Linked DNA regions of Homo sapiens. The protein of the gene in region 1 interacts with the protein of each later gene in a biochemical or structural test. Each region holds a gene or a part of one and is shown on either strand. Other genes may lie near its edges. The genes, in order: PPP3CC and BCL2.

Region 1 (7,293 bases):
GGGAGACAGAGTGAGACTCTGTCTCAAAAATAAATAAATGGGCCGGGTGCGGTGGCTCACGCCTGTAATCCCAGCACTTTGGGAGGCCGTGGTGGGCAGATCATGAGCTCAGGAAATCAAGACTATCTTGGCTAACACGGTGAAACCCCATCTCTATTAAAAAAAAAAAAAGAAAAATTAGCCGGGCGTGGTGGCGCGTGGCTGTAGTCCCAGCTACTCAGGAGGCTGAGGCAGGAGAATGGCGTGAATCCGGAGGCGGAGCTTTCAGTGAGCCGTGGTGGCGCCACTGCACTCTAGCCTGGGTGACAGAGCGAGACTCCGTCTCAATAAATAAATAAATAAATAAATAAATAAATAAATAAATAAATAAATAAATAAAAATAAAGTAGGTTGGGGATGAGGGTTGTGAAATGAGGAGGAAGAAATGGAACACAAGCCTAGAGAGGTTTAGCATGCAGGGTACTGCCCATCAACAAAGAGTTTATCCCACAGGCAGGAAGTGCTCATGAAGGATTTTGAGCACAAGAATGACCCTTGATATTGTTCACAGATCACGATGACAGCGTGGACAGACTACATAGTCTCAGCAAGAGGCTCCTGCAATGGCACAAGCAAAAGGTGTGAGAATAGGATGAAGTAGAGGATATGTACAAACCAAAGGTTCACAGCATTTAGTCTGGTGGGACTGGACATGCAGTAAAATGGAGAAGAAAGAGTCTGGCCTGATTCCCAGGCTGGTCATCTGAATCAGTGACTAAATGGGTGAGTGGTGCAATTAACAGGGATGAAAAATACACTTAGAAAATCCTTTTTTTCTCCTCTACTCATTAGTGTTAATATTTACTTTATCCCACTACCACCCCTTTTTTCACTTCAATCTCTTCAATAAAATTAAAAACATAGCTATTCCACTTTCCACATCAACTGTCTGGGTAATATTTGGATTTTCTATGATTTCAGAATAGGTTTATAAGTCTATTTGTTTTGGGTTTTTAAAACATGGTCATCACAGCCGGGCGCGGTGGCTCACGCCTGTAATCCCAGCACTTTGGGAGACCAAGGTGGGCAGATCACAAGGTCAGGAGTTCAAGACCAGCCTGACCAACATGGTGAAACCCCTTCTCTACTAAAAATACAAAAAAAAATTAGCTGGGTGTGGTGGCGCACACCTGTAATCCCAGCCACTCAGGAGGCTGAGGCAGGATAATCACTTGAACCCGGGAGACAGAGGTTGCAGTGAGCCGAGATTGCGCCACTGCATTCCAGCCCGGGCGACAGCGAGACTCTGTCTCAGAAAAAAAAAAAAAAAAGAAAAGAAAAAAATAACAGTCATCAAAATAGTCTTGCTGTCCCATTAATGAAATTGATGTCAACTGCTCCACCAGTTTTCAACTATCCCTCTTCTTTTTCTTCATTTTATGTATTTCAGTTCTCTGGCCCTTCTAGTTTGCCCATCTTCTCTCTACTTCTTAGTTAAGTACCTTTTCTTTCTCCATACTGACTTCTGTATGTTTTTCTAACCCCCATCATGCAGCTGAAACCACTACTTTTTCTGCTAAACAAGCTGCCTCCACTTCACATCAGCTATAATATTCTTTAAGGCTCATTTTCTTCTTTTCAGCTTTCCCCCATTAAGACACTATGGAATCCTCAAATATGATGACAGCCTTTCCTAAACCTAGCTGTAGCTGTTTTGAGGCATTTCCTTTTTTTTTTTTTTTTTTTTTTTTTGAGATGGGGTCTCAGTCACCCAGGCTGGAGTGTGGCGCTATCTTGGCCCACTGCAACCTGCAACCTCCACCTCCTGGCTCAGGTGATCCTCCCACCTCAGCCTCCCAAGTAGCTGGGTCCACAGGTGCAGGCCACCACACCTGGCTAATTTTTTATATTTTTTGTAGACACGGGGTTTCACCATGTTGCCAGGCTAGTCTCGAATTCCTGAGCTCAAGTGATCCAGCCGCCTTGGCCTCCCAAAGTACTGGGATTACAGGCATGAGCCACTGCGCCCAGCCAAGCCATTTCTTCATTGTACTTTTTTTCTCCCTAACTTTTTTTTCTTTTTTAAATAGAGATGGGTGCTCACTGTGTCACCCAAGCTGGAACACAGTAGTGCAATCATAGTTCACTGAAGCCTTGGAACTCCTGGCCTCAAGCAATCCTCCCGCTTCAGCCTCCCAAGCAGCTGGGACTATAGGCGAGAGCCACCATGCCTGGCTGTCCCCAACTTTACATTTTGAAAAACTGAAATCTATTTAAAAAGTGAAAGAATCATAAAATGAACACCCATATGCTCTTACCTAGATTCACCATAGTAAATGTTTTGCCACTTTCGCTTTTTTCTCTACAAATGATTTTTTTTTGAACAATTTAAAAGCAAATTGCAAAAATCACGACATTTCAACATACTAATACTTCATCAGGTATTGCCTAAAAATAAGATCATTTTCCTATATAACCATAATACCATATAGTCACATTCAAGACATTTAACAATGATATAGGCCAGGCACGGTGGCTCACACCTGTAATCCCAGCACTTTGGGAGGCGGAGGTGGGCAGATCACCTGAGGTCGGGAGCTCGAGACCAGCCTGACCAATACGGAGAAACCTCGTCTCTACTAAAAATATAAAATTAGCCCAGTGCGGTGGTGCATGCCTGTAATCCCAGCTACTCGGGAGGCTGAGGCAGGAGAATCGCTTGAACCCGGCAGGCAGAGGTTGCGGTGAGCCGAGATCACGCTATTGCATTCCAGCCTGGGCAACAAGAGCGAAACTCCATCTCAAAAAAAAAAAAAAACAAAAAAAAGGTATAATACCGTCTAATATATACACCATATTCAAATTTTCCCAGTTATCCCCAAAATGTCCTCTATGGTTTTTTGTTTTCTTAATCCAGGCTTGACACTGTACTTGACTGTCATTTCTCTTTCAACTTCTTTCATCTAGAACAGTCTTCCTGCCCTTTTTGTTTCGTTTCGTTTTCACCACTTTGAAATTTTTAGAGTTCAGGCCAACTGTCTTGTAGAAAGTCCCACAAACTGGATTTGTCTGATTGTCTACTATAACTAAGCTCAGCTTAAATTAAACACCTTTAGCAAGAATGTTACATAGGTAATTACTGAATGAATTCTTCAAATATTTCTCAGTGTTTGTTCATTTAGAATTTCAGTCTCTTGGGCTGACATTGTCTAGACACTGCAAAAAAACCTTCATGAACTGTTAGCAATTAGTAAATCTAGTAATGATCATCAAAGAAATACATTATCTTGTCCAGCCATCCAGTATATCTTTCTGTGCCCAATTTAAAGATCCTGGTTACCAAGTTAAACCCTCTTCAAACAACAAACGAAGACTCAAGAAACTAAAAGACTTCAGGATAATCTAAAGTGCCAACAAAACAAAATTGAATATGGGGAACTAAAAGTTCTCTCTACATTCATCTGGATAACCAGATAGAATATAAGGGTAACTAAGAAAGATACCACTTAGGTTAGGTTGAAAGTTTTAGGCCTCAGTTTTGAAATGTAAAATGCTGCTAAATTTTAACATTAAGACTATAAAAGGCAGGGCGCAGTGGCTCACACCGTAATCCCAGCACTTTGGGAGACAAAGGCAAGAGGATCGCTTGAGCCCAGGAGTTCAAGACCAGCCTCAACAACAGGGCGAAACTCCACCTCTATAAAAAATACCAAAATTAGGCCAGGCTCGGTGGCTCACGCCTGTAATCCCAGCACTTTGGGAGGCCGAGACGGGCGGATCACGAGGTCAGGAGACCGAGACCATCCTGGCTAACACAGTGAAACCCCGTCTCTACTAAAAATACAAAAAAAAATTAGCCGGGCATGGTGGCAGGTGCCTGTAGTCCCAGCTACTCAGGAGGCTGAGGCAGGAGAATGGCATGAACCCGGGAGGCAGAGCTTGCAGTGAGCCGAGATTGCGCCACTGCACTCCAGCCTGGACGACAGAGCGAGACTCTGTCACAAAAAAAAAAAAAAAAAAAAAATTAGTTGGACACGGTGGCGTATGCTATGCCTGTGGTTCCAACTACTCGGGAGGCTGAGGTGGATCACCTGAGCCCAGGAAGCTGAAGCTGCAGCGAGCCATGATCGCGCCACTGTACTCCAGCCTGGGCAACAGAGCGAGACCCTGTCCCCCACCAAAAAAAACTATAAACGGGCATTATAGTCTAGTAATGATTGCACCAAAGGATGGTAATGATTCTAAGACATCCCTTTATTCCCATTAGTCATTTAGCAATTAAGTAGCAGCAAAGTTCCAAAATGACTACAAATCCCGGAATTAAATGAATAATTTTGTCTCTAATAGAGACATGTCTAAAAATCAGCTTTTTTTTTTTTTTTTTTTTTTTTTTTGAGACAGAGTCTTGCTCTGTCACCCAGACTAGAGTGCAGTGGCGCAATCTCAGTTCACTGCAACTTCTGCCTCCCAGATTCAAACGATTCTCCTACCTCAGCCTCCTAAGTAGCTGGGACTACAGGTGTGCACCACCATGCCTAGTTAATTTTTGTATTTTTAATAGGGACTGGGTTTCGCCACGTTGGCCGGACCTCAGGTGATCCACCCACCTCGGCTTCCCAAAGTACTGGGATTATAGGCGTGAGCCACCACGCCTGGCCTAAAAATTAGCTTTTTCCAAAAATGTTACCTTAATAGAAAGACATTCAATTCCTAGTATCAAATACTGCTTAGGAAAAGGTCTTTAATTAATTATTTCACTTTAAGTAATGAGTCCTTAGCATTTTTCTCTCAGAGTCCCTTGTTTTTTTCACTTTACAGTAAGATGTGATTAGTATGTTACTTTACAAATATGACGTTAGACGCCAGAATAATGGTTACAAGTGTCATATTTTCCCCACTGTTGCCCATTTAGGGATGGAAACCAGTGGACTGAACGTGAACTCATGCTTGTTTCTGGGATTCTGGTAATCTATTTATTTTGGTTGAGTGGTTACATGGGTATGTGGGTGCTAAATTTGTAAAAACTCACTAAGCTGTACATTTATAATTTGTACATTTTCCCATATACACTCCAGTAAAAGTTATGGTACACTAAAAATTACGTAAGGCAAAAAAAATTTTTAATCCTATTTTAAAATGCAATAAAAGAGAGAAAGCTTAATTATCAAATGTCAGACCATAAATAAAGCTTTGATCACAACCAATAACGTATAGGTAAGAAAGAATACTTTATCCTTGCTCAAAAAGAAAAAAATTAAGTGTTTAAATTAAGATGCCCTTTCAGAGGTTCCAGATTTCTACTCAGATGTATGAATCTCGATTAGCACTGATTTTGAATGTTTCAAAAGTTTGGCAGCTTGTTAATCACAATGGTAAATGAAGCATAAATTAAACAAATACTGTTGACAAATCCAGGAGATATCAACTTTAAAACGTATTCACATTGAAAATTTATACTTGAAAATGTTTCTTCTGGGTTGGTATTGTATCAAGTGACTAATGTGTCCCCACTGAAAATATAAAGAACCAAAATATTAATATAAGCACTCTAAAACCATTTCCATGCTGATTGAAACCATTATGGAAATATTTAGGTAAAATTACAATATTTATGTTAAAATAATATGAAATATTTGCATAACAAAAGCTTTAATATGTGTGATCCATTTTCCTTTGAATTCAAAATATACCTGCAGATGGAAACACACAAAGGTATTAAAAGCAGTTATTTCTGCTGGGAAGGAATATGAAGTCTTTCTTTTCTTCCCTTTCTGATTTTCAAATTGTATAAGTAGCAGGATTAAGCTTATATTTAAGAGAAAAAATTTTAAACCCTCGGTAAATCCATTATGGATATAAAAAAGGGAGAGTCGGGGGAGAGTTGTGGAAAGAAATGAAGTATAGGTACCAGAGATTGAAATCGGGTTTAGGGTATATTTGTAGAAATAGCAATTTTTGTCCACACTAATATTAAAATATTTTAAGAAAGCCATAAGCACAATATTCCCAGTGCCACGATATTAAAGAAACAGTAGCCTGCCATGTGTGGTAAAAATGGTACAGTACTCTGTGAATACACAATATATTTGAATTCTAAGAGAAAGGGAGAAATGTATCAGCACCTTACTAAAAAGAAATCTGACTTTTCTGTTAAACCCCATCTGGCCATAAAGTAACAAAATAAGACAATGGATTCTCTATATTTGTCATGTAATTCCTACTGAAATTTCCTTGTTGCTTCTGAAAAGATTCATTCCAGGGAAATAAACTGCTTTTATAAAAATCACTGTCAAAGAAAAAACATGTCCTTAAACAGGAAAAGGAACGTGGAAACTAGAAAAAAAAATAAAGCAGACAGAATATCACAATTTAATCATTTGGGTGCCTAGTTCTCTGGCTTAGATACCAGTTATGGTGCCCCAGTGCATATAAACTGCTCTAAAGGCTCACAGAAATGCTACTTTTAAAGCAAAGAAGAAATGAATGAGCAACCTACTAGGGTACATTGCAGATGGCACTCAATAAACATTTAATGAATGAGTAAAATCATAAGAAGGTTTAAACATAAAATAAACACCTTCAACAGATAGAGAAGAAATCTGCTGCCTAGGGAGTACCAGACAGAACTGTGCTGATCTCTTCACATTGTTACCGACGAGATTTCACCCACATATCCATTATGCTGTAGAATAGGTATTCACCTGACTAGGAACAGTTTTGTAGCTTATAATTTCACATACTTTCTGATATTTTCAAATGTTAATGATATCTCTACTAACTACTTCTGTAGTAAGCGATCTATTACCAACCTATTATCATGTCTCAAAGTACTACCTTAACTTGACCTTTTCACATGCTTTATGTCACTTGCATGACCCAGGCTTGACAGGGAAGGTATTATTAACCCTATTTTACAGATGAGTTTTTTTTTTTTTTTTGGCTTGAGACTGAGTTTCACTCTTGTCGCCCAGGCTACAGTACAGTGGCACAATCTTGGCTCACTATAGCCTCTGCCTCCTGGGTTCAAGCGATTCTCCTGCCTCAGCCTCCCAAGTAGCTGGCATTACAGGTGTGAGCCACCACGCCCAGCCACATCCTTCAATTTAAGAAAGCTGCTATTTAAAGGACACCTAAAATACAAACCTCTCCCACATACCCACTCTTCTCCAAAATTTGCTCAAATAGAACAATTAGGTACACTTTAAAGTTAACAGGAAATGACAGAAACAAAAATAGCTGGGGTGTGGTATCACCTCTGAAAAAGCTTTCAAGCTGTGAATAAATGCAGACAGCTGTGACTAAACAAGATAGCAT
Region 2 (5,217 bases), on another chromosome or scaffold:
GAGTATGGACCTTGGAGTCAGCCACACCAGGGCTCAAATACTGCCTCTGTAATTTATGATTATTGAGAACTTGGGCATATAGTTTCAACGTCTTGAGTCTCAGTTATCTCCTACAAAATACAAGAGGCCAATACCTACCTTGAAAGGTTTGAGAGCAAAAGGTAGTATGCATACAGTGTTGTATCCAGCAGGTGCTCAACAGATGAATGCTACTATCAGAGTCCTTTTAATTGAGTCTAAGTGATGTGACTTGAAGGGTTGAGGATTAGGGTATCAGGACCTGAACCCAGTGGGAAACATCAGATCCCTTGCCATTTAGGGTTCACCTGCTCCAAAGCAAGTAGCTGCTTTGGTTCCATCTAAAAATGTTGACTTCAAAACAGAACTTTCAGCTTATTTCCCTCTTTTTCATACACATTTCATCTTATAAAATGCAGAGGCTGGGATCTCTGGTCTATATGGAAGAACACACTCAACAGCAACAGTAGCTCTCCCAGGGAGTAGAACTCAAGACTGGTCTATCTTGTACCTAACCAGGAGGGTTATTACCAAGAAACAAGAGTCTCCTTCTAAGGTGGTTTCACCTGTAAGGCAATCCCTTAGCCTGGTCCCTGAGGGCTTCATTAGAGTAGGGTCCTGGTGATTTTACTGGCTTGTTAAGAAGGCTTTTCAAAGTCTTGTGTAATGATGATGAATGGCAGGGCAAAATCATGTTAACACATTATAAACAATTCCAGGCACAACCAGTATCTCACACTGTACTTTATTTTTCTTCACAATATTAACTAGACAGACAAGGAAAGTTTAATGGCAATGTGACTTTTTCCAACAACACAAACAAAGTGCCATTATAGCTAATGGTGGCCAACTGGAGACTTACTTTACCTTAACCATGTAAAGTATCCTTACCGTATTTTTTATGTGTACAGTGTTGCAGAATATCAGCCACCTCTTAAAAGTATCAATCTTAAAAAGAGCCATGGAAGGTAAAAGTATGAAAATCTTGATAACAAAAGCTTTCAATACAAAAACACTTATTGTACACTTATTTTTATTTAAAACAAAAATAACCCCAGTAACTCAAAACAAAAGCAAACCTTGGTTGAAAACTTAAGAAGGTATAATAAACAAAACCACCAAAAGAAAGCTTCCCCAAAAGAAATGCAATCCACTGTCACTCTTGCAAATTCTACCTTGGAGGGAAAAACTTAATGAAATGAGCTATCTGGAGGGCCCACGGCAGATTTTCCAAAAGGTTTAGGTGCATGGATTTACTCAGTATCTACACTACAGTCTTATTTATTAATAGTCTCAGAATTTTCTTGATTGAGCGAGCCTTTCCATCCTCCACCAGTGTTCCCATCTTCTGTGCTCAGCTTGGTATGCAGAACAACCTTGTTGTTGATAGGATGTTTGCTTGAAGTTATTTTTCTGGGGCAGTCCAGATGAACCGGTACAGTACCATTCATGCTCCATCTGATTTTCTTTGCATCCAGTGAGATGCATATTTCATGATTGTCCAAGGTCATGGTTGTCCAAAGACATGGAACAGAATGATTCACTGGGTAAGACTAAAGGACTTGTATTATCACTCTCCAATTCAGTTTCACATTGCTTAATTTTATAAAATTTTTTTCTGTATTGTACATAATAAACATTTAGAAACAGATGTCCCTACCAACCAGAAGGTTGTCATTAAATATCCTGTTAGTTAAAACTGCACATTTATTGTTTAAATACCCATTAGACATATCCAGCTTGAAATTTATACCATTGCACTGCCAAACGGAGCTGCACTTTGAGCCATGCTGATGTCTCTGGAATCTAAAGGTCGTACCACAAACTTCAAAATGTTTCTCATTTGTCACACAAGGTTCTTCGCAGAGGCATCACATCGACCCCAATACAGGTCCTTCATACCCTTAGTTCTGGTTATTCTGAAAACTTCCAACTCCCTGATCCAAACTTGGGAATGTTTTACATTTAAAAATTCTTCCTCCCTCCCACCCCTCCAACAAATGTCCTTTGTCCCATAATAATTTAAAAAAAAAATCCCTGAAAGATCCAAATTGAATAACAATAAAGATCTGATTGGAACCTTCATAAGCTTGACAATGTAGAATTGTATTTCTTAAAAAGTGTGTAACCACATTTGTCTGGGCTGCAAAAGACACCACAGAATAAGATCAGAATAGAATTTCAACTGACTCCCTAATTTCCTTAGAATGGCTTGTATTTCGAGCCTTTCCTGTTTTTCTCTGATAGAGTAGGTGTACATTACTAACTATAAGTGATAAGAAAGTCTAAAAACAGCCACTGCCTTAAAAGTACAGTTGGAATTAATTAGAGTTTAAGTTCACATTTATAAACTATTTGTTTTAGGATAAGTTCAATTACAAATAGAGACTATTTGCAATTCTGTTCACTCAATAGATCCTGGAGGTGAAAGCTAGACATGTGTTGGGATTGCCCTGATTATTTACATTTAATCTTGATTATTATAACTCCTCTCGATTTATAATCACTTCCTAATTTTTCCCACTGGGCCAGAGCTACATCTTTAGATGATAAGCATTTACTAATAAAACAAAGATCACATATAAATGGAAGGCCACATCTGAACACAGAGAGGTAAGTGAGCTGTGGAGAGAATGTTGGCGTCTTGTTTGAACTAAATTGAGGTGCTTCCTTAATTCTGTGACTTTATTCCAAATCTTAAGCCTGCCAGAGTTTTCTGCCCCTGCCAAATCTTCGGAGACGACCCGATGGCCATAGACCCTGTCAGCTGTCATTCTGGCCTCTCTTGCGGAGTATTTGTGCAGCGAGGGACTGGGAGGGCCGAGGAGGTTCTCAGATGTTCTTCTCCTTTTGGGGCTTTTTTTAGAGCCCTTGTCCCCAATTTGGAAAGTGCATATACTCTATTTAACTCTGACCCTGGCCAGTGTAAAGAGGAGTACATACAGAGGACTGTTTTTTCATTCATAAAGAGCAGTTAAGATGCAGATGTGAATCCCTCTTCAATACAAAATAGGGATGGTTCTCTGTTGCCCAACTGCAAAATAATTAGATATAATGAAAAAAAAGAAGAGGAGAAAAAAATGACTAGTTGAGGCTTTTATATACATTCATTGCTTCTAACATGTTTTTAACAATAAGGAAAATGCAACATCAACTACTCTTAGAGCAAGTGCAGCCACAATACTGTACAGTTCTGGGGCCAAGAGGCTGGGCACATTTACTGTTATTAAAACCAGGTAACAAAACCCCACAGCAAAAGGCAGCCAGCCAGCAATTAGCCCCCGTGACCTCTTAATATATATACATTTTTCAAATACTCTGTGAATCCCGTTTGAACAACAACAAAAGACAAAACAGGCTTTATATTAAAAACGTCCACGTTCTTCATTGTTACTTCTAAAGCAGCTTGGAGGATCTTACCACGTGGAGCATACTGCAAACTGACTCCATTAAAATGATTTTGGCAGGATAGCAGCACAGGATTGGATATTCCATATTCATCACTTTGACAATGTAAACCTTTCATAAAATAATATTTTGCTTAAAAATTAGAATCATTCAAAGGTCTGATCATTCTGTTCCCTGAGGCCCGCCGGGGAGGTCTGGCTTCATACCACAGGTTTCCTGCTTTCTTGGTGGAGCGTAAGCACCACTGCATTTCAGGAAGACCCTGAAGGACAGCCATGAGAAAGCCCCCGCGGAAGGAGGGCAGGAGGGCTCTGGGTGGGTCTGTGTTGAAACAGGCCACGTAAAGCAACTCTCTAAAGGTCAAACCACCATAGATTTGAATCTGCTGGTCATTTGCCATCTGGATTTTTAACTGAATGAATCTCATGGGTTTAACCAAACATGCATGTAATCCTGAATACCATGAATTAAATGCGGAATTGCCCAGGGACGAGGAAACCTTCAAGAAACAAGGTCAAAGGGACAACAGATATAACTGTCACAATAAACAATTCTGTTGACGTGGAAATGCACATGACTTGGTTGAAACAAAGCTCCTCAGTGGCCAGTGACATCCAGGTTTTTCTTAGGTAGCTGAGACTCAGGGCTTATCTCACCTTCTCAGAATGCTTTTGAAGAATCAAGAGATAAAAATCTCAAACAGAAAACGATCACCTTTGCTCACAAATAGTGTATAGGCCATAACTAAATACAATTAAAAACAAAAAAACGCTGAGATGCATGTATTTTTTTAAAGCAGCTTTCGAAATATCAACCACAGCATTAAACATTGAACAGAGTACATTCCAAAGTTAATACAGATAAATGGTATATAATGCAATAATGCCACAGAGTTATTCCATCAATGTTTCAAGGCTGATTCTAAACTGGAAGAAAAAAAAATTTCCTAGTTTATTTGCTGAAGATGTCACTTCTTTTGTTACTTCTTTATAGTTCCCCACCATTGATTTTTTTTTTAATGCCCCAGGATGTACAGATAACCCCCATATTCCACACCTGGAACTTTTTTTTTGTCAGGTTTTCAAATAAAACCAAACTACAGTGACAAGATAATGTTTTACATGTAATTCCATAGACAGGGGTCAATTAATCCATGACACCTCACTTCAATGCTTCTTTTAGGATTTGTGACCCTCTCCAAAGTCATTTAAAGCCTTGCTTTAAACTCACAGGTGGGCCAAGGCCACACAGCCAACGTGCCATGTGCTACAGCCAAAATGGGCCGTGGCCATTGCCTCTCCTCACGTTCCCAGCCTTCACCATGTCCTTCTGATAGGAAGGGCCCAGGGCCTCTGTTCCTTCCCTCTACAGTGATACATGTCTTAAGAAGGGTCGTGGCTCCCATGCTCCACGTGAAAACGGGCCTACCTGGAGGGCCCCAGGGTGACAGGCCCAGCCACACCCCTCTACTGCTCTTTCTTGACAGTGGAATTCTGAGCTCCATCAGCTTCCAGACATTCGGAGACCACACTGCCCTGTTGATCATCCCTGGAGGAGGCCAGTGAGGGCCCCGGCTCAGTTCCAGGACCAGGCCTCCAAGCTGGGACACAGGCAGGTTCTGCGGACTTCGGTCTCCTAAAAGCAGGCACTTGTGGCGGCCTGATGCTCTGGGTAACTCTAGCCTTCCTGATGCGGAAGTCACCGAAATGTTCACTTCCTCAAGTTCCAGAGGATTCTGTTTCTTACTCAGACAGAGCCAGTATTGGGAGTTGGGGGGTGCGTATCCAAAAT

What was found.
Region 2: the proteins of PPP3CC (region 1) and BCL2 form a complex in vitro, tested with the Homo sapiens proteins (one study listed by BioGRID).

What each region holds. Positions count from the first base shown.
Region 1 is NC_000008.11:22,443,886-22,451,178, reverse strand, and holds part of PPP3CC (serine/threonine-protein phosphatase 2B catalytic subunit gamma isoform), read right to left. Parts: intron 1-7,293. UniProt on the Homo sapiens protein: Calcium-dependent, calmodulin-stimulated protein phosphatase which plays an essential role in the transduction of intracellular Ca(2+)-mediated signals. Dephosphorylates and activates transcription factor NFATC1.
Region 2 is NC_000018.10:63,122,602-63,127,818, forward strand, and holds the end of BCL2 (apoptosis regulator Bcl-2), read right to left. Parts: 3' UTR 745-5,217; downstream 1-744. UniProt on the Homo sapiens protein: Suppresses apoptosis in a variety of cell systems including factor-dependent lymphohematopoietic and neural cells. Regulates cell death by controlling the mitochondrial membrane permeability. Appears to function in a feedback loop system with caspases.